5 separate regions of the Homo sapiens genome follow, and regions 2, 3, 4 and 5 are each linked to region 1. Evidence: fine-mapped expression QTL. A gene starts in region 1. Each other region holds a variant in brackets. All regions are shown on one strand. Distances are from middle to middle. Region 1 holds the start of PLEKHB1 (pleckstrin homology domain containing B1). Region 2 overlaps MRPL48 (mitochondrial ribosomal protein L48). Region 3 has its middle 26 kb from the start of MIR548AL. Region 4 overlaps RAB6A (RAB6A, member RAS oncogene family). Region 5 overlaps PAAF1 (proteasomal ATPase associated factor 1).

The links.
Region 2: its variant is fine-mapped to the expression of PLEKHB1 in whole blood (INTERVAL, PIP above 0.99).
Region 3: its variant is fine-mapped to the expression of PLEKHB1 in whole blood (TOPMed, PIP 0.98).
Region 4: its variant is fine-mapped to the expression of PLEKHB1 in whole blood (INTERVAL, PIP above 0.99).
Region 5: its variant is fine-mapped to the expression of PLEKHB1 in blood mononuclear cells (TOPMed, PIP 0.99).

Annotation. Positions count from the first base shown.
Region 1 is chr11:73,642,784-73,649,264 of GRCh38, reverse strand. It overlaps PLEKHB1 (pleckstrin homology domain containing B1), which reads right to left and starts at 2,684. Exons shown (of 8, transcript NM_021200.3): 1 at 2,639-2,684; 2 at 178-253. The coding sequence starts at 2,656. RefSeq lists enhancers at 1,406-1,565, 2,201-3,119 and a silencer at 1,606-1,825.
Region 2 is chr11:73,808,348-73,814,828 of GRCh38, reverse strand. It overlaps MRPL48 (mitochondrial ribosomal protein L48), which reads right to left. Exons shown (of 8, transcript NM_016055.6): 3 at 6,479-6,481. Among named protein-coding and RNA genes, the nearest start is that of MRPL48, 24 kb to the right of the region's middle. The variant C/AC (reference allele first, on the strand shown) is at 3,384.
Region 3 is chr11:74,422,442-74,428,922 of GRCh38, reverse strand. No RefSeq gene overlaps it. Among named protein-coding and RNA genes, the nearest start is that of MIR548AL, 26 kb to the right of the region's middle. The variant G/A (reference allele first, on the strand shown) is at 2,892.
Region 4 is chr11:73,688,210-73,694,690 of GRCh38, reverse strand. All of the region lies in intron 6 of RAB6A (RAB6A, member RAS oncogene family), which reads left to right. It also overlaps the pseudogene LOC268276. Among named protein-coding and RNA genes, the nearest start is that of PLEKHB1, 45 kb to the right of the region's middle. The variant G/AG (reference allele first, on the strand shown) is at 4,136.
Region 5 is chr11:73,917,061-73,923,541 of GRCh38, reverse strand. It overlaps PAAF1 (proteasomal ATPase associated factor 1), which reads right to left. Exons shown (of 12, transcript NM_025155.3): 10 at 4,510-4,592. It also overlaps the pseudogene ARPC3P4. Among named protein-coding and RNA genes, the nearest start is that of DNAJB13, 31 kb to the left of the region's middle. RefSeq lists a silencer at 2,818-3,030. The variant T/A (reference allele first, on the strand shown) is at 3,315.

The DNA of each region.
Region 1 (6,481 bases):
TAGAAGTTTAAACCATGTAGTCGGGAATGGGAAGGACCTTCAGGCAGAGGGAAGAGCATGGACAAACAAGGGAAGGATGAAAAGGTCCTGGTTTCTTGAGAGAAGTGTTCCCCGTGGCAAGCCCAGTAAGCCACTTCCTTCACCCTGCCCCAGGACCAGGGGCCCAGGATCACTCACTCTGTCTCCACAGCCAGCCGCCCCTCACCAGGGCCATTTCTTCAAAAGGACTTTCCAGAGCGGAGTCAGGCGGGACCTGTCAGAGGAGCCACGGGAGACACAGGCCTCAGCAGCAGCTCCCTGGAGAGAAGCCCCCAGCCCTGCCGTCCCTGGGGAGCCACCCAGGAAACGTTTGAGGGAGGGTTAGTAAACAAGGGCCAGGCGGCCTCGGCCTCCTCCCCATTCTCTGCTCAGGAAGAGAATGGGAGCACTGTCACTGTGGGGTCAGCAGGGCAGCCATTGGTGTGGGGTGGGGGTGGGGACCAGGAGCCTGGATTCCAGCCTCAGCTTGGTAACTTTGGCCATATCCCTCCTCCCTGGCCCTCTGTCCTGGTCTCAGTTTCTAGATCTGTAGAAGTGTGTCTGTGAGGCAGGCAGAGGCTGGAGGGAGGAGCTCTTGAAACATTAGAATATGCCTGACTAGCTCAGTCGGTGGAGCATGAGACTCTTAAAGTATTAGAAACCTTGGGATTCTGTAATGTGGAAGTGCAGAATATTAGAATCACGGCAATGGATGAGGGAAAAGCTCCCTCCTATTTGGACCCCACTAGAGCTGTTTACAAAGTGCTTCAAAGAGCAGTTCAACAGCAGCTGTGATGGACCGAGCACTCTGTCCGGGTACCCCCTATCAGTGCTTTCATCCATTATCTCATTTAAGCCTCCCTGCAGTCCTTATTATTCCTATTTCAGAGATGGGGAAACGGGGGCCGGAAAGGTCCAGTCAGTTGCACGGGGCCACTTGATTAGTAAGCAATGGAGCCCAGACTCACACCCAGCAGTCCTGGCTTCAAACCGTTATGCCGGCAGGAGCTTTGAGAACTTCCGATACCAGGCCACACTCCGTAACAATTAAATCAGAATGTCTGAGGGCAGGAGGCAAGCCCTGATACTCTTCAAAGATCCTCAGATGATTCCAATGTACAGCTAAGTTTGGACGTCACCGCACATTCTACTCCCTCACCTTGTCCCCACTCTAACCCTGTTAGGAAGGGAATCCTTACTCCTGTTTTACAGATGGACAAACTGAGGGTTAGCAAATGACTCATCCATGTACATGATGTAGCTTGCACTGGAATCCAGGTAGGTGCCCTCTGTTCCTGAGGGCGACTCACTTGCCAGCGGGTGCCTCCGCCCCTCCCCCACCTGCTCACACCTGTTGCTGCGTAACAAGGGCTGGCACACCTGGGCTGGAAGGCCCAGCCTTGTCTGTTCCTCTTGCCGCTCCCTCCCCTCTCCACGGTCTTGACACAGATCAGACAAGAGGGTCAGGTGCAGACTCCTTTTCCAGCCCCTCCCCTTGATGCACCCACCTTGTCTACACTTGTTGCGGATGTTGCTGCCTAAGCGGCCGCTACTCGATGCTGCTGCCACCCAACCCGCTGCGCCTGCGCTTTGTGTGCCCCGGAGAGCCTGGGGCATTTCTCTCCTCCCGCAGCGCCTGAGAGCCCAGCTGCCCCCGGGCCCCGCCCTCCGGACCTGCCCACCCCAGGGAGGGGGAGTGACGTGAAGAGATGCTGACCCGAGGCGTACTGGGACTTGTAGTCTACCCCTGTAGAGCTGGGCAGAAGCAGCCCCGCCTGCAATTTTACTTTTCTATTAAGACATTTGTTCACTCATTTATCATGAAATACTTTTTCTTAAGAATCATTGAACTCAGTTCCTAGAAAAAAAGAAAAAGTAAAGTTGCAAGGAGAAGCCAAGCTCCTAGTTTTGCATGTTTTTTTGATGCTTCCCCTTTCCATCCCCAGCTTCCAGTCTAGTGAGGGAGATTACATGGAAACACACAATTGGAGCACAAGGTGTGATTTAACAATGGAAAAGATGAGCCTGACTTTTCTCAAGGGGTTCAGGAAGGCTTCCCAGAGGAGGCTGAAAGGGGCCTTGGAGGATGAGGGGCAGTTTCCTAGGCGACCCGAAATTTCCCCTATGAATACTGTCAGGATGTTGAAGAGTGCCCAGCATTTCCGTGTGTCTAGAACATAAAGCGCAGGGGTGGGGAGGGCATCGGGAGTGTCAGGCGATAGAGCTGCAGGGTTTGGAAAGAAATAGCACAGAGGCCTTGCATGACAGGCGGAGAGCTTGGATGTTAGGACGCAGTGACTGGAGCTGGGGGTGGGAGTTTCAAGATGAGGAGTGAGGTGTGTGATTAGGGGGTCGGAAAGGCCCCTCTAGGGCACAGTGAAGAATGGACTGGCGGGAGCCCACCTGGAGAAAGGAAGACTTTCTGTATCTATCACCTCGGACTGTGATCATTTCCTTCAATAGCTCAGCCCCGCAAACCCTCACCTACCAGCAGCCACAGGATGTCATTCAGAGACCAGAGGATGTCAGGGCCTAAAAGACTTCTGTCCCGTCCCCTATGTGGCAAGGGTGCCCACCCTGCCCTGGGCCCTTCCTCCTGTCCCAGAGAACTCTTCCTTACCGGGGCTGCAGGGCTCATGGTTCCTGGGTGGCCAGGGCAGCATTTCCCAGAAGGCTCCCGCAGCGGGGCATTTCCCTGAGCGCCTTAGAGATAAGGGGATCAGGAAGGTGCTACCAAGTGGGAGGCTGGAGGGGGAGGCAAGGAGGGAGCGCACAGATCCCAAGGAAGGTCGCCCTCTTTCTCCAGGCTCCTCCCAGCCTTTCCAACTGATGGCTCTGACCCTAGGTTCACTAGACAAGTCATCCCTGATTCAGAAGTGGTCTTGGCTCAGCATCGCCGAGGTTCCCGGAGTGGAATCGGGGCGAGGTTGCGGGGGCAGGACAGGAACCGGGCTGGTCCTCCTCCCTAGGTTGGGGGCGGGGCTACATCTTCATTCTTTGGCCTGGCAGGACAGCGCCCATCACCCCAGTCCTGGCTGCGCAGTCTGGCTCTTTAAGCCTTCCTCTCTTGCTCCTGAGTCTCTGTAATCCTGACCTCGAGCTACCCTCGCTCCTCGGCCCTTTGTGCGGTGCGTGCCCTGCTGAGGGATTCGCCATGGCCAATCCTATTAACCATTGAGTTCATCCCCTCTTAGCCGACTCAAGAACCAGCTCTCCCATACCGCGTTTTCATCTCTGTGCCTTTAACTCACTCTCTGTCTGGTTCCTGGAACGTCCCAGTCCCAGCTTCTCCTAGCTAAATTTTCCACCTCCACAGTGGAAGGAAGAAAGGAAGCAGTGGGAGGGGGAAAGAGGCAAGGAAAGAGATATGGAAGGAAGGAAAGACAGAAGGAGAAAAGAAGGGAGGGGAAAGACGGGAAGGCAGGTAGGTAGGGCTGCAGCTGGCCTCGGAGGATCTGCGCCTGGGTCCTGCCCCGACCCAGCCTCTCTCCAGCTCTCCCTGCTCCCCTCCCCGATGGGCAGTGGGGCATCCTTCATGTTGAGGGGCGGGGACGGTGCAATCATCTCCTAGATTTCATTCTCTGGATTTAGCAACCAGATGAAAAAGGAAGGTTCTCCAGCAGCAGTGGAGACTTCAGGGGAAGACTCTCCCCTACCTCCCAAAGAGCGGGCACTATGACGAAAAAAAGAGGAAAGGACGTGGCAAACTAAAACCACAGACACTACTACCGAATCTAAACGTAGCCGGACTTGGCCCATGTCTCTAAAAGCTGGTCAGTGACCCTCTTTGAGAAGCCAATAAGGAAGTGTAGACTGTCCTCAGGAAAAAATCTGCGTATAATTCCTGGGAGTTCATAGACCTCTGAAGCCATGATAGTCATGGTTGGATTGTTTTTAATTTCCAGAGCTGTGTAGATGGGAGGAGAGTGTAGATTGACGAGTGAGAGGTATGACAGTATGTCAGGAATTCCAGCCGCAGCAGTCCTGGCTGTGAGAGACTTTGTTTGTTCAATCAACTAAAACTTATTGAGACTAATAAGCCAACAAGTAACTTTTACATTTCTTTGTGGCTATGGTGCACAGAACCATTGGCAGAGAGGAAAAGATTTTGCCATTTCAAGTGTCCCTGGTGAATGAACAGCCCACAGATAATACATTGTTTAGGAAATAGTGGACTGGCTCATCAAATTCAAATTTACTACTTACATTTTCTAGAGAGTATAATATAATGAGAATAATTTATATTATCTTTATTTTAAAAAACTTGAAGTTTATATCAAGATGCAATTTGAGCAAAAGTAAAAGTGCTTATGAAAACATTTTAAATGGCCGGGCGCTGTGGCTCATGCCTGTAATCCCAGCACTTTGGGAGGCCAAGGCGGGCAGATCACCTGAGATCGGGAGTTCGAGACCAGCCTGACCAATATGGAGAAACCCCATCTCTACTAAAAATACAAAATTAGCTGGGTGTGGTGGCACATGCCTGTAATCCCAGCTACTAGGGAGGCTGAGGCGGGAGAATTGCTTGAACCGGGAGGCAGAGATTGTGGTGAGCCGAGATTTCACCACTGCACTCCAACCTGGACAACAAGAGCTAAACTCCGTCTCAAAAAAAAAAAAAAAAAAAAAGAAAAGAAAACACTTTAAAGTGATAATTTTACGCTTTTTTTTGTCTTTTTTTTTTTTTCCTTTTTCTGGAGAACGGGGTCTCGCCATATTGCCCAGGCAGGTCTCGAACTCCTGGGCTCAAGCTATCCTCCCGCCTCTTGCCTCCCTGAGAGCGGGATTACAGGCGTGAGCCACTGCGCCCGGCCAAAGTGATAATTTTAGTGAGATGTAATTCACCTACCATAAAATTCACCCTTTTAAAGTAAAAAATTCAGTGGGTATTTTTTTTTTTTTTTTTGATGGAGTCTTGCCCTGTCACCAGGCTGGAGTGCAGTGGTGTGATCTCGGCTCACTGCAACCTCCGCCTCACAGGTTCAAGTGATTCTCCTGCCTCAGCCTCCCGAGTAGCTAGGACTACAAGCGTGCACCACCATGCCCAGCTAATTTTTGTATTTTTAGAGATGGAGTTTCACCATGTTGGCCAGGATGGTCTCGATCTCTTGAGCTCGTGATCTGCCCGCCTCGGCCTCCCAAAGTGCTGGGATTACAGGTGTGAGCCACCGCACCTGGCCTTCAGAACATTTTTATCACCCTAAAAAGAAACCCTAGGCCAGACATGGTAGTTCACGCCTGTAATTCCAGCACTTTGGGAGGCCAAGGGTGGCGGATCACCTGAGGTCAGGAGTTCGAGACCAGCCTGTCCAACATGGTGAGACCCTGTCTCTACTAAAAATGCAAAAATTAGCTGGGCGTGGTGGCGCGCACCTGTAATCCCAGCTACTCAGGAGGCTGAGGCAGGAGAATCACTTGAACCCGAGAAGCAGAGGTTACAGTGAGCCGAGATCACACCATTGCACTCCAGCCTGGCTACAGAGCGAGTCTCCATCTCAAAAAAAAAAAAAAAAAGAAAAGAAAAGAAACCCTATAGTCTTTAGCAGTTACTCCCAATCTGTCTTCCCCCCAAGTCCCTGGCAAAATTAATCTGCTTTCTTTCTGTACAGATTTGCCTATTCTGGCCATTTCATATAAATGGAATCATGGGCCAGGCGCAGTTGGCTCACACCTATAATCCCAGTGATTTGGGAGGTGAAGGCAGGAGGATCTCTTGAGGCCAGGAGTTTGAGGTTATAGTGAGCTGTTACTGCACTGCTGTACTCCAGACTCAGTGACAGAGTGAGACCTTGTTTCTAAATAAATAAATAGTTTTAAAAAATAAATGGAATCATGCAATGTGTGACCCTTTGTGACTGGCTTCTTTCACTTAGCATAATGTTTTCAAAGTTTATCCAGGTTGTAGCATGTTATCAGTATTTCATTCCTTGTTTTTTGTTTTTGTTTTTGTTTTTGTTTTCAGACAAGGTCTTACTCTGTCACCCAGGCTGGAGTGCAATGGTGCGATCTCACTGTAGCCTCAACCTCTCTGGCTCAAGCAATCCTCCCACCTCAGCCTCCCAAGTAGCTGGGACTACAGGCACATGCTATCACACCTGGCTAATTTTTGTATTTTTGGCAGAGACCGAGTCTCGCTATGTTGCCCAGGCTTGTCTCCATCTCCTAGGCTCAAGCAGCCCTCCTTCCTCAGCTTCCCAAACTGCTAGGATTACAGGCCTGAGCCACTGCGCCTGGCCCATTCCTTCTTACTGATGAATAATATTCTATTTTATGGATATATCGTGTTTTATTTATCTATTCATTGGTTGATAGATATTTGGGTGATTTCTACTCTTTAGCTATTATAATACTGCTGTGAACATTTGTGTACACATTTTTGTGTGGACATATATATGCTTTATTTTCTCTTGGGTGTGAAATTTCTGGGTCATGTGGTAACTCTACGTTTAACATTCTGAGGAAC
Region 2 (6,481 bases), 170 kb before region 1:
AGAGACAGGGTTTCACCATGTTGACCAGGCTGGTCTAGAACTCCTGACCTCAAGTGATCCACCTGCCTCGGCCTCCCAAACTGCCGAGATTACAAGCATGAGCCACCGCACCCAGCCTCACTTTTTTTTTTTCTTGAGACAGTCTCACTCTTGTCGCCTAGGCTTGAGTGCAATGGCACAATCCCAGCTCACTGCAACCTCCGCCTCCCAGGTTCAAGCAATTCTCCTGCCTCAGCCTCCTCAGTAGCTGGGATTACAGGCATGCATCACCATGCCTGGCTAATTTTTGTATTTTTAGTAGAGATGGGGTTTCACCATATTGGCCAGGCTGGTCTCGAACTCCTGACCTCAGGTGATCCACTGGCCTCAGCCTCCCAAAGTGCTGGGATTACACGCGTGAGCCACCGTGCCCCACCTCACTCTTTTTTTTTCTTTTTGAGACATGATCTCGTGCTGTCTTCCAGGCTAGAGCACAGTGGCAAAATCATAGCTCACTGCAACTTCAGTCTGACTCATGCAATCCTCCCACCTCAGTCTTCGTCTTCTGAGTAGCTGGGACCACAGGCACTCGCTATCCCACCAGGCTAATTATTTTTTTTTTGTAGAGATGGAGTCTCCCTATGTTGTCCAGGATGGTCTTAAACTCCTGGGCTCAGGTGATCTTCCCCTCAACCTCCCAAAGTGCTGAGGTTATAAGCGTAACCCACTACACCTGGTCTGGACCACATATTGAAAAGAAAAAATATTTATCAGAAGGTAATATGAAGGATTTTTTTTTTTTTTTTTTTGAGACAGAGTCTCACTCTGTCGCTCAGGCTGGAGTGCAGTGGCGAGATCTCGGCTCACTGCAAGCTCTGCCTCCCGGGTTCACGCCATTCCCCTGCCTCCGCCTCTGGAGTAGCTGGGACTACAGGCACCTGCCACCACGTCCCACTCATTTTTTGTATTTTTAGTAGAGACGGGGTTTCACCATGTTAGCCAGGATGGTCTTGATCTCCTGACTTTGTGATCCACCCGCCTCGGCCTCCCAAAGTGCTGGGATTACAGGCGTGAGCCACCATGCCCAGCCATGGATTTTTAAAAATAATCTTAGGGTAGAAAAGACCTTTTTAAGCATGAAACAAAATCTAGAAATCAAAGATTAATAAACATAACTATATAAAAATCTAAAGCTTCTGTTTAATGGAGAAAACACAAACATAAAGTCAAGGGATAAATGACTAGAAAAAGTACAAGCATATGTAACAGAGAAATGCTAATTTCCTTAATATATAAGAACTATATTAAAAGTTCTTACAAATCAAAAATGAAAAAGTAAACAATCCAATAGAAAAATTGACAAAAAAACATAAATGGGCCAGGCACAGTGGCTCACGCCTGTAATCCCAGCACTTTGGGAGGCCGAGGTGGGTGAATCACCTGAGGTCAGGAGTTAGAGACCAGCCTGACCAACATGGTGAAACCCTGTCTCTACTAAAAATACAAAAAAATTAGCCAGGCGTGGTGGCACATTCCTGTAGTCCCAACTACTCAGGAGGCCGAGGCAGGAGAACCACTTGAACCTAGGAGGCAGAGGTTGCAGTGAGCCAAGATCATGCCACTGCACTCTAGCCTGGGTGACAGAGTAAGACTCTGTCTCAAAAATAAGTAAATAAATAGGCAATTCATTAGGAAACAAATACAAATGGCAAATAACCATATGAAAAGATGACAAATTCAAGACACACAAATTAAAATGAGACATAATTTTCACTAACAAAAAAAATATTATTTTTTTAGGCCAGGTGCAGTTGCTCACACCTGTAATCTTAGCACTATGGGAGACCGAGGTGGGTGGATCACCTGAGGTCAGGAATTAGAGACCAGCCTGGCCAACATGGTGAAACCCTGTCTCTACTAATAAATACAAAAATTAGCCAGGCATGGTGGCGCATGCCTGTAGTCCCATCTACTTGGGAGGCTGAGGCAGGGGAATCTCTTGAACCCAGGAGGTGGAGGTTGCAGTGAGCCAAGATCGTGCCACTGTACTCCAGCCTGGGTGACAGAACGTGACTCAGTCTCAAAAACAATAAAAAATAAATAAATAAATATATATATATATATATATATATTTAGACATGGGATCCTGCTCTGTCGCCCAGGCTAGAGTATGGCATCTATTCACAGGCAAAATCAAAGTGCGGTACAGCCTCAAACTCCTGGGCTCAAAGGACCATTCTGGGACTTCAGCTTTCCATGTAGCTGGGACTACAAGTTCATGCCAGTGCTTCCAGCTAACAGTAAATGTTTTATAAAACCCAGTTTGGGCCGGAAAATAGAAATGTAAATTAATACAACTTCTCTGGTGGATAGTCTGGCAATACTTATCAAAATCTCCAATTCATAATGCATTGACTCAGCAATTTCAATTCCAGGAATTTATCTTACAAATGTACAGGAACAAGTTTACAAAGACATACGAAAATGGCTGGTGTACCATTTTTTGAAACAGCAAAAAACTAAAAACGACCTAAATGTCCAGCATTAAGATACAGTCATACACACACATAATATAAATCTTCATATATACATAAAATCTTCCTGAAAGATACACAAGAAATTGCTATCAGTGGATATCATGAGGGAGTTAAGATTGGGAAAGAGGGCCGGGCGCGGTGGCTCACACCTGTAATCCCAGCACTTTGGGAGGCCGAGGCGGTTGGATCACAAGGTCAGGAGATCTAGACCATCCTGGCTAACACGGTGAAACCCCATCTCTACTAAAAAATACAAAAAATGAGTGGGGCGTGGTGGCAGGTGCCTGTAGTCCCAGCTACTTGGGAGGCTGAAGCAGGAGAATGGTGTGAACCCGGGTGGTGGAGCTTGCAGTGAGCCAAGATCTCGCCATTGCACTTGTCTGGGCAACAGAGTGAGACTCCATCTCAAAAAAAAAGACTGGGAAAGGGCAATAAAATTTCACTTTTCATCATATACACTTTTGTACAGTTTAAGTTTATTCTTCCCATATGCATCCATTTCAATTTTTTAACAGGTGATAATTTTAATAGTATTAGGTTGGTGCAAAAGTGCAGTTTTTGCCATTATTTTTACTTTTGCACCAACCTAATAATTTTTTTAAAAGACTTTCCTCAGAATATATACCAATTCAAAATAAACTTTGCCTATGGTTGAGAAGGATAAGGGATAAGACCAAGGCTAGAGAATAATGATGACTTGAACATAGATCTTTTTGTTTTAATACAAAAAAGACAATGAAAGTCTGACAAAATGTTAATAGTTGCCAATTCTGGGTTTATTTGACATATTACTCTTTTACTCTTCTATATTTTTTATATCTCTCAAAATAAAAAGTATAATTAAGAGATAAACAATTTTTAAAAAAA[C/AC]CTCTCCTTCACCCTACATCTCTCTTCAGTTCCTGCCAATATTTTATTGACCCATTCAGTCTCAAACTTTTTTAAAGCATTGTCTACAGTCATTTTTTTCCTAACTCTTGGACTTTCATTCACTTGTCACCTCATGGTTAATTTCCACAACCCATCCACCCCACCTACCTAGACTACCCTCCCTAAGGTCACCAGTGACCTCTAGATTGCTAAAATCCAAGGATACTACCATGTTCATGTTTTTCCTGGTCTCTCAGTAGCACAGTTGAAACTGTAACATGGTTGGCCACTCTTTCCTTCTTGAAACGCTCTCCTCTTGCCTGCCATGATACTATACTATCCAGGTTTTCTCCACTATGGTCTCTCTTTCTCAGCTTCATTAGACTTTCTCCCTCTACCCAGATTTTTAAGGTTGAAATTCCTCAGGGTATGATCCCTGGGTCTCTTCTCCACCTTTTCTCCTTAAGTGATCACATTCATTCCCATGGCTTCAATTAAAACTGACAAAATAATGACTTTCATATTTATAGTTTCAACTCAGACCTAAATTTTTAGCTCAAGATCAGTGTATCCAATGGGCTGCTTAATATATCCTTTGCAGGCACTCCACACTATTACAAAAACCACAGAAAAACAAACACTGGATGTTCTCACTCATAAGTGGGAGTTGAACAATGAGAACACATGGACACAGGGAGGGGAACATCACATACCAGGGCCTCTCGGGGGGTGGGGGGCTAGTGGAGAGATAACATTAGGAGAAATACCTAATGTAGGTGATGGGTTGATGGGTGCAGTAAACCACCAGGGCACGTGTATCTATGTAACAAAACTGCACGTTCTGCACATGTAACCCAGAACTTAAATTACAATAAAAAAAAAAAAATAAAGAAAGAAAACATCCTTATTTCTTTTTTCTTTTTTGAGTCAGAGTTTCGCTCTTGTTGCCCAGGCTGGAGTGCAATGGCACGATCTCGGCTCACTGCAACCTCCGCCTCCCAAGTTCAAGCGGTTCTCCTGCCTCAGCCTCCCGAGTAGCTGGGATTACAGGCATGCTCCACCATGCCCGGCTAATTTTGTATTTTTAGTAGAGATGGGGTTTCTCCATGTTGGTCAGGCTGGTCTTGAACTCCTGACCTAAGGTGATCCGCCCATCTCGGCCTGCCAAAGTACTGGGATTACAGGCATGAGCCACTGCACCTGCCCGAAAATATCCTTATTTCTAAAAACCCAAGCTAAAGTATTCAAGCGTAAAGTATCATGATGTCTGATTTTTAAGAAGCTAACATGACAAAATGTTAACAAAAGTTGAATCTAAATAGTGGGTAAAGAAATGTTCATTGTATTATTCCTAGGGAAAAAATAAGCTTCTAAAACTACTAAATAGCAAGGACTATATCCTCTTAATTTTGTATCACCAGCATCTAACACACAGTCTAGTAAGATACATGTTTGTCAAGAGAATGTATAAATAAAAAGAAGCCCATTATTTTGAGATGTTAGGCTTTGGGCCCAGTAGAAATGGTGATTCCCTACACATTGCCGCCATCTTCTAAAATAATTAACATATGTAAAGCCTCTTCCACACTTCCTTGCACACAGTAGGCACTGAGTAAAAAATGTTAGTTCCCTTCCTTACTTCCATTCCTTTATCTCTGATACTTGTCAGACACATGACAAACGTCATTAAAATCCAACAACTCCATTGAAATTTCTCACATAATAGACAAAGCAAAAATGGCAAGTAATTGGGTTGAAACAGAGATGGATATCCATTGAGTTAATCAGACTGAATGGACATTCATTTTGGATTAAACAGTGTGAGAAAAGCCCTAGCCTGATGATGGACATACAAGGCAGTTCTGGAATAGTAGCAGTATTAATAATAATAATAATTACAGCTGCTACTTTTTGAGCATTTTATCTTTTTTTTTTTTTTTTTGAGACGGAGTCTCGCTCTGTCGCCCAGGCTGGAGTGCAGTGGTATGATCTCGGCTTACTGTAACCTCTGCCTCCGGGGTTCAAACAATTCTCCTGCCTCAGCCTCCCGAGTAGCTGGGACTACAGGCATGTGCCACCACGCCCGGCTAATTTTTTGTATTTTTAGTAGAGATGGGGTTTCACTGGGTTAGCCAGGATTGTCTTGATCTGACCTCATGATCCGCCCTCCTCGGCCTCCCAAAGTGCTGGGATTACAGGCGTGAGGCACCTGGCCAAGCACTTTATATCTTTTGTCTCACTGAATCTTCAAATGGTACACTACAGTTTGTATTACAATTATCCTCTTTTTTTTAAATTTTTTTAATTTAAGAGACAGGATCTTGCTCTGTCACCCAGGCTGCAGTGCAGTGGCACAGTCATAGCTCACTGTAACCTGGGCTCAAGAGATCCTCCTGCCTTGGCCTCTGGGGTAGGTAGGATCACAAGCCTGTGCCACCACACCCAGTTAATTTTTAAAAAAATTTTTGTAGAGACAGGGTCTCACCATGCTGCACAGCCTTCTCATTATTTTTTTTTTTTTTGAGATGAAGTCTCGCTCTTGTCCCCCAGGCTGGAGTGCAATGGCGTAATCTCAGCTCACTGCAACCTCCGCCTCCCGAGCTCAAGCGATTCTCCTGCTTCGGCCTCCCGAGTAGCTGGGATTACAGGCGCCTGCCACCACGCCCAGCTAATTTTTTGTATTTTTAGTAGAGACAGGGTTTCACCATGTTGGCCAGGCTGGTCTCGAACTCCTGACCTCAGGTGATCCGCCCGCCTCGGCCTCCCAAAGTGCTGGGATTACAGGCGTGAGCCACCGCACCCGGCCTCACAGCCTGCTCATTTTTTAAGGTGAGGAAACCAAGCTACAGAGAAATAGCCAAAGATCAAATAAATATGTAGTACAGTTGGAATCCAAACTTACTGTAGAGCTCTTGCTCTTAGCCACTACTTGATGTTCTCACCCATGGTTCTATTCCATGCTCACATGGAGGGGTGGGGTTTGGTTCAGGCCACTGTTCTCAAAGATATGGTAGGCTTCCTTCTAGGCAAAATTATTATAGAGTGCTAAAGGGTCACTTAAAGCAGGCCAACTACATCAGGTAAAAACTGCTTACCTA
Region 3 (6,481 bases), 780 kb before region 1:
TTTTAGTGTGAAAACAGCTATAGACAGTATGTAAATGAATGTAGCTGTGTTACAATAAAACTTTATTGTGGATACTAAACTATTAACTTCACATAATTTTCACATCATATTTTTCTAAAAATGTAGAAACAATTCTTAGCTCATGGGTTGCACAAAAACAGGAGTAAAATGGGTTTGGCCAATGGACCATAGTTTGCTGACCCCTAGGTTAGTCTGATCATGATCCATTGCCTGGAGCTGAAGACACGGCTACACCAAATAAAATTGATATTCCGTTAATCAAGATGGGAGAAAAGACGACATATTGGATAGGCATATTAGTAAGTTTCCTATTAGATATGAAAACTGTATAAAGCCGTAATATGTGAAGCAATGTGGTATTGGTGCAGAGATAGCTAAATAAGTAATAAAACAAAGAACCTAGAAAAAGACCAAGATGTGTTAGAACTAGCTGTATAATAAAGGTAGTATTTCAGGCCGGGTGCAGTGGCTTACGCCTATAATCCCAACACCACGGGAGGCCAAGGCGAGCGTATCACTTGAGGTCGGGAGTTTGAGACGAGCCTGGCCAACGTGGTGAAACCCCATCTCTGCTAAAACAAAAAACAAAAATTAGTCAGGCGTGGTGGCACACGATGTAATCTCAGCTAACAGGAGGCTGAGGCAGGAGAATCACTTGAACTGGGGAAGCAGTGGTTGCAGTGAGCCAAGATAGTGCTGCTATACTCCCAGCCTGGGTGACAGGGTAAGACCCTGTCTCAAAAAAAAAAAAATAGCATTTCAAATGGAAAAATTGATTATTTAATAAATGGTGCTAGAAAAATAGGCTAATCTTATGAAAAAATATGAAATTTTTATATATGTATAATATATATAATAAGACCCCTGTCTCTTACCATACTCAAAAATAAATTGCAGATGAATTATAAATCCAAGTCTGAGAAGCAAAACTTAAGAAGAAGGGTTTCTTTTCTAAAAAAAAGAAAATTGTATTATTTAGCTATTGCTCCGTAACAAACAACCCCATAACTTAGTGGCTAAAACAACCATTTTATTTGCTCTCAATTCTGTGGTCAGAAATTTGAGCTGGGTGCTGCTTATAGTGTTTTCACCATGCTGCAGTCATTGGGAGGATCAGCTTGACCAGAGAGGTCTACGATAGCCTCATTCACATGTCTGGCAGCTGGTGCTGGCCATTCACTAGGCCACTGTCTCCAGCAGGCAAGCCTGAAGGTGGCTGAGATGCAAGATGCAAGTTTCAATGCACAAGCACTTTTCAAATCTCTGCTTACATCAATTTACATCAAAGTTGGCTTGGCCAGAGCAGGTCACAGAGTTCATTTAGCCAAGTCCAGAGTCAATGTGGGCGGGAACTACATAAGAATGTGCATACAGGATGCTGTGATTCACTGGAGTCATTATTATAATATTCTATCACAAAAATATTAAAAATGTCTTCATGATATTAGAATTAAGAGAGTATTTTTTAAAAGAAAACACGGTGCACAAACCGAAAGGAAAAGACTGCTAAATCTGATTATATTAAACTGAAATCTTCTGTATGTTACAAATACCAAGCGAAAAGACAAGTCATAAATTGGGAAAAGATATTTGCCAACAACAAAGCAATAAGGATTATATCCGGAATATATAAATAATTCCTTCAGATCAATGAGAAAAAGATAAATGACAATTATGAAATGGACAAGAGATGTTTTTAAAAAAGCAATTCACAGAAGAGGGAACCCCAAAGACCAATAAATACATGACAAAAATGCTCAACATCATTAAAAACCAGGAAAATACAAATTAAAACAAAAATGACATACAATTTGGCACTCATCCAAATTGGCAAATAATAAAAACACAGAGTGTTGGTGAGAATGTGGGGAAATGGGAACTCTGATATGTTGTCATTGGGAGTGTATATTGATACAACTATTTTGAAGGACAATTTATCAGTATTACCAAAGTGAAGACGTGCCTATCCTGTGACCTGATCATCCCACATCTACGTATATACCCAATTGAGTGGTTCTCAGTTGCCTGAAAGAAATTTTTAAAAAACATACTGATAGCCATGTGCAGTGACTCTTGCCTCTAATCCCAGCTACATGGGACGCTGAGGCAAGAGGATTTTGCTTGAGCCCAGGAGTTGGAGGCTACAGTGAGCTATGATCTCACCACTGCACTCTAGTCTGGGCAACAGAGCAAGATCCTGCTTCAAAAAAAAAAAAATTCAGATTCCACTTCAGACCAATTAAACAAGAATCTCTTGGAAATGTGAATCAGGTGTTTAAATTTTAATCTCTAATATGCTGCTAAGGTTAAGAACCATTGTCCTAAGGCAACTCTTGCATATATGCCCAAGGTGCACAAGGATGTTCAATGTAACATAGCTTATTATTAGGGAAAAGTTGGAAACAGTGTGAGTGTCTATCAATAAAGGACTGGATACCTTGAGGTTAATTTTTTCTGCGCCTCAAATAGGATAATTTTAACTGTCCTCTTAAATTCACTGAGTATTCTACCTGCTCAAATCTGCTGTTGAACCCCTCTAATAAGTTTTATCCTCAGTTATTATACTTTTCAGCTCTAAAATTTCCATTTGGTTCCTTTATATGACTCTTTTTTTTTAATTACTATTCTTATTTTGTTCACACACTGTTTTCCTGGCCTCCTTTCATTCTTTTTTTTTTCTTCTTTTTTGAGACGGAGTCTAGCTCTATAGCCAACCTGGAGTGCAGTGGTGCGATTCTCCTGCCTCAGCCTCCTGAGTAGCTGGGACTACAGGTGCGTACCACCATGCCTAGCTAATTTTTGTTTTTTTAGTAGAGATGGGGTTTCACCATGTTGGCCAGGATGGTCTCGATCTCCTGACTTCGTGATCC[G/A]CCCACCTCGGCCTCCCAAAGTGCTGGGATTACAGGCGTGAGCCACTGCGCCCGGCCTCCTTTCATTCTTTGTCCATGGTTTCCTTTAGCTCTTTGAGCATATTTAAGACAGTTGATTTCAAGTCTTTGTCTACTAAGTCCAATGTCTGGGCTTCTTCAGGGACAGTTTCTGTCTAACTATTTCGTTCCTTTAAATGGGCCACTCTTTGATTTATCTTTGCATGTCTTGTAATTTTTTGTTGAAAACTGAGCGTTTGCAGCTGGGTGTGGTGGCTCATGCCTATAATCCCAGCACTTTGGCAGGCCGAGGGAGGTTGGTTACTTGAGACCAGGAATTCAAGACCAGCCTGGTCAACATGGCAAAACCTCATTTCTACAAAAAATACAAAAATTAGCTGGGTATGGTGGCACATGCCTGTACTCCCAGCTGCTCAGGAGGCTGAGGCATGAGAATTGCTTGAATCTGGGAGGCAGAGGTTGCAGTGAGCTGAGATGGCACCACTGCACTCTAGCCGGGATGACAAAGCAAGACTCTGACTCAAAAAAACAAAACAAAACAAAACAAAAAACCCACACACAAAACTGAGCATTTAAATAATATAATGTGATTAATGTGGTAACTCTGGAAGTCAGATATTCCCCCTTCCCCAAGTTTGCTGTTGTTAATTGTTGAGGACTGTAGCCATCCATTTATTTAATGATGCTTTCAAACTGTTTTTGGAAAGAGTGTATTCCTTGTCATGTGCAGTTACCAAAGCCTCTGTTCCATTATCTCAGTGCTTAGTGAAGTGACCTAACAAAGATTTCCTTAAGTACTCAGAGCCAAAAAGAGAAAAAAATACTACTCTTCTGGTCTTTGCATCTTGGTTGTGAGTGGGGACATTTTTTTCACCCCTACACCAGGCCACCTACAGGTCTGCCTTTGCCTTTACTTCCTGTATGCATGGAGCCCACAGATCTTCCAGAGGTGCCAAGCCTATGATCCTCTAAGGCCTTTTCTTTTCTTTTCTTCTTTTTTTTTTTTTTTTTTAGACAAAGTCTTGCTCTTGTCGCCCAGGCTGGAGTGCAATGATGTGATCTCAGCTCACTGCAACCTCCACCTCCCGGGTTCAAGCCATTCTACTGCCTCAGCCTCCCAAGTAGCTGGGATTAGAGGTGCCCGCCACCATGCCTGGCTGTGCAAGCACATGGTCCTGGGAATGCATGGTCATCCCAGCATTTTGGGAGGCCGAGACAGGCAGATCACCTGTGGTCAGGAGTTCGAGACCCGCCTAGCCAAAATGGCAAAACCCTGTCTCTACTAAAAATACAAAAAATTAGCTGGGCGTGGTCACGCATGCCTATAGTCCCAGCTACTGAGGAGGTTGAGGCACAAGAATCACTTGAACCCGGGAAGCGCAGGTTGCAGACAGCCGAGATTGCGCCACCGCACTCCAGCCTGGGCGACAGAGCAAGACACTGTCTCAAAAAAAAAAAAAAAAAAAAGCCATAGTGCTCTCTTACCAAAAGTCAACTGCCCTTTTCCTTATTAAGCATTCCCCTGGTTCCTGTAAGTTTTGGATATTTCAGGGTCCCAAAAAGTTGATTCTGTCAGTCTTTGATAGCTTATGTTTGTTTCAGTGGAAGCACCAATTCTTTGAGCACCCTACTGTGCCATTTTCTATAATGTCACCTAATGATGCTGTCTTGATACTATTTTCCTTCTCTCCCCAGGCCTGAATCGTTGGTCTGTAGTTTTGATCCATCTCTCCTCACTGCTTGGGAACCCATCCAGAGCCCTGTCTGCTCAGCCTGCACCTACCCAGTACCTTCAGGTTCCCAGCAGCTGCACATGGTGAATTCTTATCATGAAATATTATACATAATTTTAAATAAATGAATGAGAGCTACATTATCAACATAAAGATATCCCATAAATGTAATTTTGACTGAGACAAGCAAGTTACAAAAAGAGCATAAAGTATAAAATTATTTGTGTAATTTAAAAATACACAAAACCAGCCAGGCGTGGTGGCTCACACCTGTAATCCCAGCACTTTGGGGGGCCAAGGCAGGTGGATCACAAGGTCAGGAGTTCCGGTCCAGCCTGGTCAACATGGTGAAACCCCGTCTCTACTAGAAAAATATATAAATTACCCAGGCATGGTGGCACGCGCCTGTAGTCCCAGCTATTCAGGAGGCTGAGGCTGAAGAATTGCTTGAACTCGGGAGGCCAAGGTTGCAGTGAGCCGAGATCATGCCACTGCACTCCAGCCTGGGTGACAGAGCGAGACTCTGTCTCAAAAAAAAAAAAGCACAAAACCATAGATACATACCAAAATACTGATAATACTTCTCTGGGTGAAAGGACCACATAAAGTTTTTATTTTCTTTATTTTGCTTATATTGTTTATTTTCTATATGTTTTAGTTGTGCATTGCTGCTGTAACAAATTACCATGAACTCAATAACTTAACCCAATACAAATTTATTATCTTATGCCTGGAGGTCAGAAGTTCAAAATGGGTCTCATAGAGTCAAAATCAAGGTGTCAGGAGGGATGAAGTCCTTCTGAAGGATCCAGGGGAGAATCCATTTCCTTGCTTTTTCCGAGTTCTAGAGGCTTCCTGATTTCCTTGGCTCATGGGCCCTTCTTCTCTCTCTAAAGCCAGCAATGATAGGTTCTCATAGCACATGACTCTGGCCCTGCTCCCATCATTATATTTCATTCTCTGATCTCTTCTTCCTCCTTCTTCTGCTGTTAATGACCCTTGTGATTACACTGGTGCCACTTGGATGATCTAGGATAATGCTCCTTATCTGAAGATCCTAAACTTGATCACATCTGCAAAGTCCCTTTTGGCATGTAAGGGAACATATTCACAGGCTCCAGGAATTAGGATATGGACATCTTTGGAAGGCCATTATTCTACCTGATACATTATAATAAATATGATATGCTTGAAAGAAGGAAAAAAACATGAGTTCAAAGGCTTCTTAAAACTACCTGCATAATGTGCTTGGATTTGCGCCAAAGCCAATGATCTTATGAAAATCCTCTAATCATCATCGTCCAACTTTACATTTTATAGGCCCAAAATAAAGAACAAGTAATAAACAAAAATCTACACAAAGGTTGTATATTCACCCTGCAGATAAAAGACTGATGCACCTGTTCCAACATTATTCATTTTTCCTGCATATAAGTTTGTATCATAACAGTATAAAAATATTATGTCAAAGGGCTTTTAACTCATCTTCACTGACTATAAAAGAAATGCAAATCGAGATGACCATTTTTTACAATGTTGGAGAGAATGTAGGGTAAGAGGCACTCTCACAGTTGGTAGGAATATAAGCACAGCTCCTAGGGAGAGCAATTTGACAGTATCTGTCAAAACTTAAAATGCACATACCCCTTGTCAGCATTAACTCTATTTCTAGGGGTTTTTCCTGTAGATACTCTCACATGTTCCCAAAAATATAGATACAAGAATATCTAAGGTCCCATTGTTATAATGGTAAAATATTGGAAGCAGTAAAAACGTCCATCTGTAGGAGAGTGGTTAAATAAATTGTGTATGTTCTGAGGTTAAGAACCAAGATTGCAC
Region 4 (6,481 bases), 45 kb before region 1:
CTTATTCCCAGGCTGATCTCGAACTTCTGGGCCCAAGTGATCATCCCATCTTGGCCTCCCAAAGTGCTGGGATTACAGGCATGAGCCACTGCACCCAGCCTAAAATTTTTGTCGTAAAAAAATGGATTAGCTTTTTGTGTCTGTCATTTATGTGTACTAGTATTTTACAAAACAAATTCTTCTTACCCAAGATTATTAGCTGTTTCTTCACATAGCCCTTTCACAGTGCTTTCCATATAAAAAATACTCCATTTATACTAGGCAGCTTAGGTATTATAAAAAATACGAGCTTTGGAATCTCAGCTCTGCCATTTATTTGGTCTATGGCAAATTCTTTAGCCTTAGATTTGTTTAAAATGGGGTTATTAACATTTTCCTCACAAATAAGAGGATTAAAATGAGAAAATACGTAAACATTCCAACAGAGTAAGTACTCAGTGTCTTTTCTTCCCTTCTTTGATTTGATTGTTTCACACCCTTAAAAATTGTTACTACAGCATTGGTTCTTAACCCTAGCTGCACATTAGAATCATCCAGAGATATTTGAATAAAACACGAATGGCTCAGCCCCACCCCACATCAGTTGAATCAGTCTTTGAGGGTGAGGCCCAAGCATCTGGAGTTTTGTTTGTTTTTAAGCTTCCCAGGTAATTCTGATACCGCATAGGTATTGAGAACCACTAGTCTAGAGGGAAAGACTTCACACATAACCTTTCAAGAAAGCTTTCCTGAGGTATTTCTAATAACTTTCAAAGTTAAAAATAAGGATGGGGGAGGGCCAGTGGGATCACTTTAACCTATTACTCTTACCTAGCTTTTTTTTTTTTGAAACAGTCTCAAGCTGGAGTGCAATGGCGCCATCATAACTCACTGTAGCCTCCATCTCCTGGGTTCAAGCAGTCCTCCTACTTCAGCCTCCCAAGTAGGGACTACAGGCGTCCACCACCACACCTGATTTTTTAAATTTTTAGTAGAGACGAGGTCTCACTATGTTACTAGGCTGGTCTTGAACCCCTGAGCTCAAGTGATCTCCTGCCTTGGGCTCCCAAAGTACTGGGATTATATGCATAAGCCACAGCGCCCAGCCTGTCGCTTTCTTTTCTTTCTTCTTTAAAAAAAAAAAAAAAAAAAAAAGATGGAGTCTTGCTATGTTGCCCAGGCTGGTCTCAAACTCCTACACTCCAAGTGATCCACCCGCCTCAGCCTCCCAAAGTGCTGGGATTGCAGGCGTGAGCCACTGCATCTGGCCCTGTTGCTTTCTTTAAACACATATTTCTCTGATTCATGTACCTACTGGTTAATCTTTTGGTCTCTTAACTTTCATTCATTCCAATTATATTTGCTTATGTTAATTAAATCCTTAAATCCTTTATTTATTTATTTATTTATTTATTTATTTTTTGGAGACGGAGTCTTGCTCTGTCATCCAGGCCGGAGTACAGTGGCGTGATCGCAGCTCACTGCAACCTCTGCCTCCCAGGTTCAAGCAGTTCTTCTGCTTGAGCCTACTGAGTAGCTGGGATTACAGGCGTGTGCCACCACGCATGGCTAATTTTTGTATTTTTAGTAGAGACGGAGTTTCACCATGTTGGCTAGGCTGGTCTTGAACTCCTGACCTCAGGTGATCTGCCTCTGTGCCCAGCCATTAAATCCTTTTTTTATATTTAATTGAAGATACTCATAATTGGCTTTTTTTGTTTTTTGTTTTTTTGTTTTGTTTTGTTTTGTTTTTGAGACAGTCTCGCTCTGTAGCCCAGGCTGGAGTGCAGTGGCGCGATCTCGGCTCACTGCAAGCTCCACCTCCTGGGTTCACGCCATTCTCCTGCCTCAGCCTCCCGCGTAGCTGGGACTACAGGCGCCTGCCAACACGCCCGGCTAATTTTTTTTTTTTTTTTTTTTTTTGTATTTTTAGTAGAGACAGGGTTTCACCGTGTTAGCCAGGATGGTCTTGATCTCCTGAACTTGTGATCCGCCCGCCTCCCAAAGTGCTGGGATTATAGGCGTGAGCCACCGCGCCCGGCAGGCATTTGTTTATTATCAAGTTGACGTTCATCTAATTTAGTCAGAGTTTTCCCTCACTGTAACCCTCTTATGCATGTAAGTTTGAAATCCCTTTTATACTTCTTTTTCCATTAGAACTGAATAAATTGATTTCCTTTTTCTTTCCTTTTTTTTTTTTTTTTTTTTTGAGACAGAGTCTCACTCTGTCGCTCAGGCCGGAGTGCAGTGGCGCAATCTCGGCTCACTGTAAGCTCCGCCTCCCGGGTTCACGCCATTCTCCTGCCTCAGCCTCCCTAGTAGCTGGGACTACAGGCGCCTGCCACCACACCCGGCTAATTTTTTGTATTTTTTAGTAGAGACGGGGTTTCACTGTTAGCCAGGATGGTCTTGATCTCCTGACCTCATGATCCGCCCACCTCGGCCTCCCAAAGTGCTGGGATTACAGGCGTGAGCCACTGCGCCCGGCCTTGATTTCTTTTTTTGCTCTGTTTTTGAGGTCAGGAGGATTCAGTGGGCATAAGTATTGCCAGATTTTCTTTGACTTGATATGAAAATAAGCTCTCTGAAGTCTGTGTTGGTCTGCTGAGTAGTATTGTGGATAGTTATACCCAAAGAATTAATCTGACAATTAACGTTCAATAGGTACCCAACAGCCAGCAAGTAAAGGCACTAATATAAACATTTGTGCTGCACTTTTTGCTTTCTTTTTTTTTTGGAGACAAGAGTTTTGCTCTTGTCACCCAGGCCGGAGTGCAGTGATGTGATCTCGGCTCACTGCAACCTCCGCCTCTCAGGTTCAAGTGCTTCTCCTGCCTCAGCCTCCCTAGTAGCTGGGACTACAGGCGCAAGCCACCATGCCCAGCTAATTTTTTTGTGTGCGTGTGTATTTTTAGTAGAGACGGGGTTTCCCCATATTGGCCAGGCTAGTCTTGAACTCCTGACCTCAGGTCATCCGCCTGCCTCGGCCTCCCAAAGTGCTGGGATTACAAGCGTGAGCCACCGTGCCTGGCCACTTTTTGCTTCCTAATGTGTTTTCACACCCCTTAATTATTGTTTTAGCTAACATTTTGAAAAATATCTACTGCATGTCAGATACTGGGATAACAAAGATGAAATGAGAGCCTTGCTCTCCAGAAGTTTAAAGTCTAGAGGGAAAGATAGAGAAGTAAAAATAGGCTATTACAATCAGTGCAGTAAATAACTCTGAAAGAACTACTGGTGCTACTTGGAGTATATATTTTAGTGCTGGGCATGGTAGCTCATGCCTGTGATCCCAACACTTTGGGAGGCCAGGAGTTTGAGACCATGGCAATACAGCAAGACCCCCATCCCTACAAAAAATAAAGAATTAGCTGGGTGCCCAGGGGATGCTCTGGCGAGGGCAGACCCCAGGAGAAAGCAAAAGGCGTCTCAGGGAACCCCCACATTCTCTCACTGAAGTTTCCCACCAGGATGACCCCACAGCCAGAGTCCCTTGGCAGCCCCTCACCCCAGAGCCCCCTTCTAAGGAAAAAAGAGAAGTTCAGGGCATTGGACCTTCATTAACAGTGGCCTGGCTGGCGTGGCAGGCCCAAGGCCCACTCACTGCCATCCCCTTTCTGTGTGTCCCTGTCCCCTAGTTCTAAGGCCCAGGGCCTGAGCTCTCTTCCCCAGCATCGCCCCCCCACCCCCGAAAAACCCCGCCTTTGGAGAGTTAATTTTCTGTGTGAGGTGCTTAACCTATCAGGCCTGAGAACACAAAGCAGTAATCTTTGTTACTGAGATGCGGCTGTTCGTGTTTTGGGTTTTTTTTTTTTAATGTTTCCTAATAAAAGAAGCTGCATTTTGTTGGTTTTTATTTTTAATTTTCTACACATTTGAGCTGAGTCCAGAGACACTTAGCTTCCCTGTCCCCCATACCCGGACCCTTCCACCCCACTGGACCCAACCATGGGCTCAGAACCCTGGAATTCCGTTTGCTGATTTGTTTGGGTTTTTTTTTTTTTTTTTTTTAAGATGTTACATGGTATTTCGAAGCCAGCAAGTTACCACCCTCCGGTGTCTCTTCTCTCCACATCTGTAACTTCTTTTTCCAGGTTTTATTTTCAGTTTTAAATTCCTAATAAATTATTTGAAAATGTTAAAAAAAAAAAAA[G/AG]AATTAGCTGGGTGCCTTGGCACATCCCTGTAGTCCTAGCTACTCAGGAGGCTGAGGCAGGAGGATTGCTTGAACCCAGGAGTTCAAGGCTATCATGAGTTATGATCACATTTTCATTGCACTCCAGCCTGGCAACACAGTGAGACAGTGTATTTTTTAAAAAGATTTTATTAGACAGGAGGAAGAAGATTTAAGGAACTGGGGAGTGAGTTAGAGAAGCTTTTAAGGAGTTATCAAGGAATGGGTCCTGAAGGATGAGTGTCAGCTAGGCAAATTGAACTGGGAGGGTATTCCAAGGAGAAGCATCATCATTGTGTCCTTTGAACTTCACAACTGTATCCCCTTTTTATTAGAATGAATCTAAGAATTAGAGATAGTAAATATCCTTGAGATTACAAAGCTGTAATAATGGGGTAGTTAATAGTAGAGTTTCTTTCTGGGCTTGTATTCTATGCTCTTTCTATATGCACATTAAATGCTGTATTAAATTATGGAAATAGGCTTTTACCCTTTCTGCCTTACACCATGTGAAAAGAAGTTTTCCCCTCCTCCAGAGTGTTGACAAAAAAAGCCAAACTGTAAAATATTTAAAGAGGTCTATTTTGAGCCAAATATGAGTGATCATGCCTGAGTCGGTCTTTTTTTTTTTTTTTTTTTTTTGAGACGGAGTCTCACTGTGTTGCCCAGACTGGGGTGCAGTGTTGCAATGTCCACTCACTGCAACCTCCACAGAGGCACAGTCGAGATTCTGAGAACATCTGCCCAAAGTAGTTGGGTTACAGCTTGGTTTTATACATTTTAGGGAAACATAAGACCTCAGTCCGTACATATGACATAGACATTGGTTTGGTCTGGAAAGGTAGGACAACCCAAAGTGGTGGTGGGGGTTGAGGGGAACTTGTAGGTCATAAGTGGATTCAGAGATTTTCTGAGTGGCAATTGGTTGAAAGAGTTATCTAAAGACCTGGAATCAATAGAAAGGAGGAGTGTCTAGGCTAAGATAAAAGGTTGTGGAGACCAAGGTTATTACGATGTAGGTCAGGGGTCCCCAACCCTTGGGCCACAGCCCAATACTGGTCCGTGGCCTGTTAGGAACCAACCCACACAGCAGGAGATGAGCAGCAGGTAAGCCAGCATTACAGCCTGAGCTCTGCCTCCTGTCAGATCAATGGCAACATGATATTCTCCTAGGAGCATGAACACTATTGTGAACTGCACATTGGAGGGATCTAGGTTGCACACTCCTTACAAGAATCTAAGTAATGCCTGAAAATCACAGGTGGAACAGTTTCATCCCAAAACTATCTGCACCCCAGTCCATGGAAAAATTGTCTTACAGGAAACCGGTCCCTGGTGCCAAAAAGGTTGGGGATCGCTGATGTAAATGAAGTCTCATAGGTGGCTGCCCTTAGAAGCAATTTTTTTTTTTTTCTTGAGACAGGGTCTCCCTCTGTCTTCCAGGCTGGAGTGCAGTGGCATAATCACAGCTCACTACAGCCTCAACTTCTGGGCTCAAATGCTCTTCCCACCTCAGCCTCCTGAATAGCTTGGACTACAGGAGCCTACCACCACACCTGGCTAATTTTTTATAGAGACAAGGTCTCCCTGTGTTGCCCAGGGTGGTCTGGAACTCCTGGGCTCAAATGATCCAACCACCTCGGCTTCCCAAAGTGCTGGGATTACAAGAGTGAGCCACTGCCTGGTGGCAAGTGTTTCTTATTTAGACCTTTAAAAGTTGCTAGACTCTGAGTTAATCTCTTCAGGATTGGGAGAACCTGGAAGGGGAAAAAATCTACTTATGTAAATAGAAATGTTTTACAGATGCAAGTTTTCTCTTCACAAAGTGGCCCTTTGCAGGGCTATTTATGGCAAAAAGAATGTTATTTGGGGGTAAGATATTTTGATTTCCTTTATCTGTAATGTGATACTATACTAGAGTCAGGTGGTAAATCCTTAGCAGAAGACCCAGGGACAAGATCTCTTAAGAGTTCAAGATATAGAAAGTACACAGAATGGCACCAACTCATTAGCAATTCTCTTATTTCTCCGGAGCCAGAACGTGATGGACACAGAGACTAATTCATTGTATTTTATATATCATCAACTAGGCTCAAATCTGTCTCTCTCTTCCTGGGAGTCTACCCCGCTGTTGAGACTGCAAACTAAGCCTTCCAGAGATGGTAAATAGGACTTCAAGAGACAGAGACAGGCACAAGAGGCACTGCACAGCCCTACTGACCCAGCCTAGATCCAGAGTTCAGCAGACCATGAGACAATGAAAGGATATTTAGTAATCTTTTTTCAGAAGTCACAGTAATGATTTATTTGGGCAAAAATCACCAATTG
Region 5 (6,481 bases), 270 kb before region 1:
TAAAAACATAAATAAATAGAAGTAGTACATGCTCACTGAACAAAACTTTAAAACTAAACAAAGCAGAGGTACAAAAATCACCCCTAATCTACCATTCAAAGGCAATTACTGTTAACATTTTGATCTATTTTTTTGTGCCTATTTTACATGGTTGACAGCATGTGCATAAACGAATGTCTTTATGCATAAAGTTTTTTCTGTATTAAGATTATGACTTTGTATATATAAAGACCTGGAAAAGAATCAGCAGACATTAACCTTTTCAAACTTTTTGGAAATCTGAACAACTGTTTTCCAAATTTATCTGTTAATCTACATTCAAGCAGCAGCATATACGAGGTAGTACCTTACCCTTTTTTGCATTACTATTAAAAATCACCTTCTCCAAAAATGAATCCTTGTCTTTTAGAGAGACATATAGAAATGCTAACAGATGAAATAAGACGCTCATGATATATTTCAAAATATATGAAGACTGAGGAATGCAAGGGAATGGGTAAAACAAGATTAGCAATATATTGATAATAGCTTAAGTTGGATAATGGGTATAACAGGTTCATCGTGCCATTCTGTCTACTTTTAGATATGTTTGGCAATTTGCATCAAAAAATTTTGTTTTTTATTTTGTTTCATCTGGCAACTTAAATCTCCTCACTAATAATCAAAGAGTTCCAAAGGACCTCAAAAATCATCTATATCCAACTTCTTTTTTTTTTTTTTTTTTTGAGACGGAGTCTCGCTCTGTCACCCAAGCTGGAGTGCAGTGGCGCGATCTCGGCTCACTGCAAGCTCCACTTCCCAGGTTCACGCCATTCTCCTGCCTCAGCCTCCCAAGTAGCTGGGACTACAGGCGCCCGCCATGATGCCCGGCTAATTTTTTGTATTTTTAGTAGAGACGGGGTTTCACCATGTTAGCCAGGATGGTCTCGATCTCCTGACCTCGTGATCCGCCCGCCTCGGCCTCCGAAAGTGCTGGGATTACAGGTGTGAGCCACTGTGCCCGGCCTATATCCAACTTCTAAACCAGTACAGAACTCCCTCTACAGCACATGGCAGAGCGGCCAAACAGCCTACACTTGCCCATCTCCAGAGTTAGGGGTGCCCACTACCTTAAGGGCAGCTTCTTTCTTAAGGAAAAGAAAGCTTTTCCTTTATAATTAACTGAAATGTGGTTTCTGATAACTTTCTCTTATTGGTCTTAGTTTTGTCCTCTGAAAACAGAGTTATAATCTTACTCCCTTTGCCTTTAGACATCAGTACTGGAAGTTATGCCTTGCCTTCTTCCCAGCAGAAAAGTAGAAAAGTACAAAAAATCTGCTCCTCTGGGTTGAAACCCGGGCGCCACCAAGATGCCAGCTTACCACTCTTCTCTCATGGATCCTGACACTGAACTCATTGGAAACATGGCACTGTTACCTATCAGAAGTCAATTCAAAGGACCTGCCCCCAGAGAGACAAAAGATACAGATACTGTGGATGAAGCCATCTATTAGTTCAAGGCCAATGTCTTCTTCAAAAACTATGAAGTTAAGAATGAAGCTGACAGGACCTTGATATACGTATCTCTGTCTACGTTTCTGAGTGTCTGAAGGAACTCCAGAAGTGCAATTCCAAAAGCCAAGGTGAGAAAGAAATGTATACACTGGGAATCACTAACTTTCCCATTCCTGGAGAACCTGGTTTTCCACTTAATGCAATGTATCCCAAACCTGCAAACAAACAGGAAGATGAAGTGATGAGGGCCTATTTACAACATCTAAGGCAAGAGACTGGGCTGAGACTTTGTGAGAAAGTTTTCGACCCTCAGAATGATAAACGCTGCAAGTGGTGGACTTGTTTTGTGAAGAGACAGTTCATGCTAGAGTCTTTCAAGACCTGGACAGTGAAAGGAGCACGGGCAGCCACCATCTCCAGAGCCCTGGGCAGCATTTTCCAGCAAGATATACGAATCTTTTGCCTTTATTTCATAAAGTTTTATACAGAAGAGAGAAGACCATGTCTTTACTTGAAAAACTCTTGATCAAGAATTTGGGTGGGAGAAAAGAAAGTGGGTTATCAACAGTGATTTGAAATTTTCTGCAGCATTAAGCTGGCGCTTAGTAAGAATAAGTAATAATAAAGAAATTTCTAACATTCCAAAAAAAAAAAGTACAAAAAGTAGAACCATGAGTCAGCTCTTCTCCACCTACACTCCTCATATAACCCACACATCACCTTGCAACAGAGATTTTTTTTTTTTTTTGCGAGGCAGTCTCACTCTGTCGCTGAGGCTGGAGTGCGGTGGTACAATCTTGGCTCACTGCAACCTCCACCTCCCAGGTTCAAGTGATTCTCCTGCCTCAGCCTCCCAAGTAGCTGGGATTACAGGTGCACACCACCATGCCTAGCTAATATTGGTATTTTTAGTAGAGATGGCGTTTCGCTATGTTGGCCAGGCTGGTCTTAAACTCCTGACCTCAGCTGATCCACCCGCCTTGACCTCCCAAAGTGCTGGGATAACAGATGTGAGCCACTGCACCCAGCCAGAGATGTTAATAATCAGTAAAATGGCCTGTAGATAGGACAGAGGAGGCGAGAAATATCAAGGCCTCAGGTGATCTATCCGCCTTGGCCTCCCAAAGTGCTGGGATTACAGGCGTGAGCCACTACACCCAACCTTATTTTTTAATTTTTAATTTTTTTTTTTTTTTGAGACAGAGTCTCACTCTGTCACCCAGGCTGGAGTGCAGTGGCGTGCTCTCAGCTTACTGCATCCTCCACCTCCCAGGTTCAAGTGATTCTCTTCCCTCAGCCTCCTGAGTAGTTGGGACTATAGATGTGTGCCACCATGCCAGCTAATTTCTGTATTTTTAGTAGAGACAGCGTTTCACCATGTTGGCCAGGGTAGTCTCAAATTCCTGACCTCAAGGAATCCACCCGCTTCAGCTTCCCAAAGTGCTGGGATTACAGGTGTGAGCCACCACGCCCAGTCACTATCTTTTTAATATTTTTTTAATTGAAAAAATTATTTTTGAGACAGAGTCTCGCTTTGTCACCCAGGGTGAAATGCAGTGGCACAATCATGGCTCACTGCAGCCTCACCTCCTAGATTCAAGTGATCCTCCCACCTCAGCCTCCTGAGTAGCTGGGACCACAGAAATGAACCACCATGCCTGGCTAATTTTTATTTTTTGTAGAGACAGGGTCTCCTATGTTGCCCAGGCTGACCTCAAACTCCTGGGCTCAAGTGATCCTCCCGCCTCAGCCTCCCAAAATGCTGGGATTATAGGCATGAGCCACTGTGCCCAGCCTACTTGTTTTTTAAATTAAAAAAA[T/A]ATATAAAAAATATTATATTTTGGAGTGACTTTAGGTTTACAGAAAAGTTAGTTAAAGATAATACAGAAGGTTCCCATATGCCCTTAATCAGTTTCAGGTTTTCCCAAATGTTATCACCTTACATTTGTCAAAACTAAGATGCCAATATTGGTACACTACTACCACCTAAACAGCATGCTTTTTTTTTTTCACCAGTCTTTCCTTAACATCCTGGATCCAATCCAGAATACCACTGACTTAGTTGTCAAGTTTCCTTAGTCTCTTTGGTTGACTTTATTTTCAAATCACTAAATTAATATAATCTGAAATGGACTCTGGACTTCTTGTTAAGTGAAGCAGTATCCTTTCCTAACTGTTTAAACCATATTCAGCTGGGTGTTCTGTAAATAACAGCCCAAAACATCCTAACTGACATACTGAAATGCTCAAGGTAGGTAGGTAGTCCCTCCAGGCTGTATAGTCCAGTCCTCCTGACCTACATCATTCCTACAAGGATCCAGTGTCCCTTAATGTACACTTTGCTCCAGGCATTTCCCCAACACCATTCCTGAACTCCATTCCAAAGAGTTTGTCCTGGCTACATTAAGATACTCGCTTTACCTAGAATATGTATGTAAAGCATCAAACACAGTACCTACTACATAGCAGGCCCTCTGGAAATGCTAGTGCTCTTCTTCTTTTGCCCCCGCTTGCCTCATCTATGACTTTGCATATACAATAGCTTCAGCTTTCAGTGTCCCTCTTTACATCTCCAGTGGGTGAAATCTTTATCAGTTTACATGTCACGTAGTTCACGAAGACCTTGCTGACAGCACTCCTACCTCTAGAATTAGCTATTCTTCATTTCCTCATGCAGTCTTCTGATGTAGTCCTTATCAAACTGGACTGCAATCAAATGTTCACACGTCTGTCTGCCTTACTGTGAGCTCCTTTAAGGCAGAAGAGTGGTGGGCATTGAGCTAAATTCTGGGAATAACACAATGAATAAGGCACAGTCACCACCCTCAAGGAGTTTGAACTGGAGGGGGACACAGACAATCACAACGTAGAGTGATAAACACTATTGATAGGTACAATATGCCAAAGAATCATGGGGGACCATGCCCCAACCCAGCCATAGATCAGACACTTAAAACTATGTTTAATTAACTGAACTACAGAGAAGCATCTCTCTCAATTGGCCCATGGACCCACCTTGGCTAGCAATGAATCCATCTCTGACACTTAGCAGGGATAGAACTGGTGCTCCTGATCTGTGGATGACTTGTACCGGAGCCCTAGGATTCAGAGAAAGGGGAAATTTTACTTTCTTTCTTCAAAAGCAATACTTGACTATATTCAACATATAGTACTAACCACATAAGAGCAAACAGGATAAAATGTGAAGAAAGATTAAACATTTCTATGGTTTCTTTCCTGGCAAGAACCTTAACTGGCAGATTAAGGTAATTCAAAAACCATCCATGTCTCTAAACATGAACTAAGTCACCACCCAAATCCTGAGTTTTTAAGGTAGGTATGACATGGGTTGAAGATAACAATATTAGCAGTATGTTAAACTTTTCACTTAACAAAAGAATTAAGATTTGTTGTAAAATATTAAAATTGTCAGGACTCTAAAAAGAAAGAGGCTGAGGCAGGAGAATGGCGGGAACCCGGGAGGTGGAGCTTGCAGTGAGCCGAGATCGCGCCACTGCACTCCAACCTGGGCTACAGAGCAAGACTCCATCTCAAAAAAAAATAAAAAAAAAAAAGAAAGAGAAAGCTGAGTGAGAATCAATTTAATATATATGTAAGTGTGACTTTATAATAGTGATCAGAGATTCCCTATCTCTGTGGAGGCAAAAAAAAAAAAAAAAAAAAAAAAAAAAAAATTAAGTAACTGAAATGATGGAAGAAAAGGTATAAGCTAGTCACCATCTACTGGAATTTATTCCCTACTCTTGGAATAAACTTAGAATGGCAGGTAAGGTCAGAGCAGCTCCTGTTTTCCTGCTGGTATCACTTCTCACCACTGCCCTCATATGCAGGGAACATACCTGTCATAGACTCCTGAAAACAATCCCCTTCACATGCCTTCATATATGGGATTCTATACATGGGATTCTACCGAGGCCAGCTCTTTTCCTCCTTCTTTACTTGGCAACGTCCTACTCAACAAGACCCAATGTTTCTCATTTCCTTGGAGAAGCAGTCTCACCTCCTTCCCTCTCCTTTTTGGTGCTTCCTTAGATTTCTGTAGCTAGCCCTGTCAGACAAGTGATCACACTGCACAACAGTCTTTTACTTGTCCATCTTTACCATTAGACTCCAGGTGCCTCAAAGGCAGAGTCTGTATCTTTTTTTTTTTTTTTTTGAGATAGAGTCTCGCTCTGTTGCCCAGGCTGGAGTCCAGTGGCACGATCTCAGCTCACTGCAACCTCCACTTCCCAGGTTCAAGCGATCCTCCTGCCTCAGCCCCCCAGTACCTGGGATTATAGGTACGTGCCACCATGCCCAGCTAATTTTTGTATTTTTAGTAGAGACAGGGTTTCGCCATGTTGGCCAGGCTGGTCTTGAACTCCTGACCTCAGGTGATCCACCCACCTTGACCTTCCAAAGTGCTGGGGTTACAGGCGTGAGCCACCACGCCCAGCCCAGAGCCTGTACCTTTTATTTCTGGTTTTCAGTGCCTTGAACCAAGCCTGATGCCCACAGAAGCTATTTTCAATAAATATCAGTTGAAAAAAGGAAGGAAATCAAAGGAGGAAGGGACAAAATTGTAGAAATTGTTAAATCCTGCAACAGAGAGATTGTGTGATTCTCTTTGGATATCTTTAAGGCCAAAGAAAAGCCTGTTTAGAAAGGTCATGATCAAAACTACATAACTAACAGAGCTGGGTTCCTTGAACTAAAAATGATCATTCAGGGCTGGGTACAGTGGCTCATGCCTGTAATCCCAGCACTTTCGGAGGCTGAGGCGGGCAGATCACGAGGTCAGGAATTCGAGATCAGCCTGACCAACATGATGAAACCCTGTCTCTACTAAATATACAAAAATTAGCTGGGTGTGGTAGCGCGCACCTGTAATCCCAGCTACTCAGGAGGCTGAGGCAGGAGAATTGCTTGAACCCGGGAGGCAAAGGTTGCAGTAAGCCGAGATAGCACCACTGCACTCCAGCCTGGG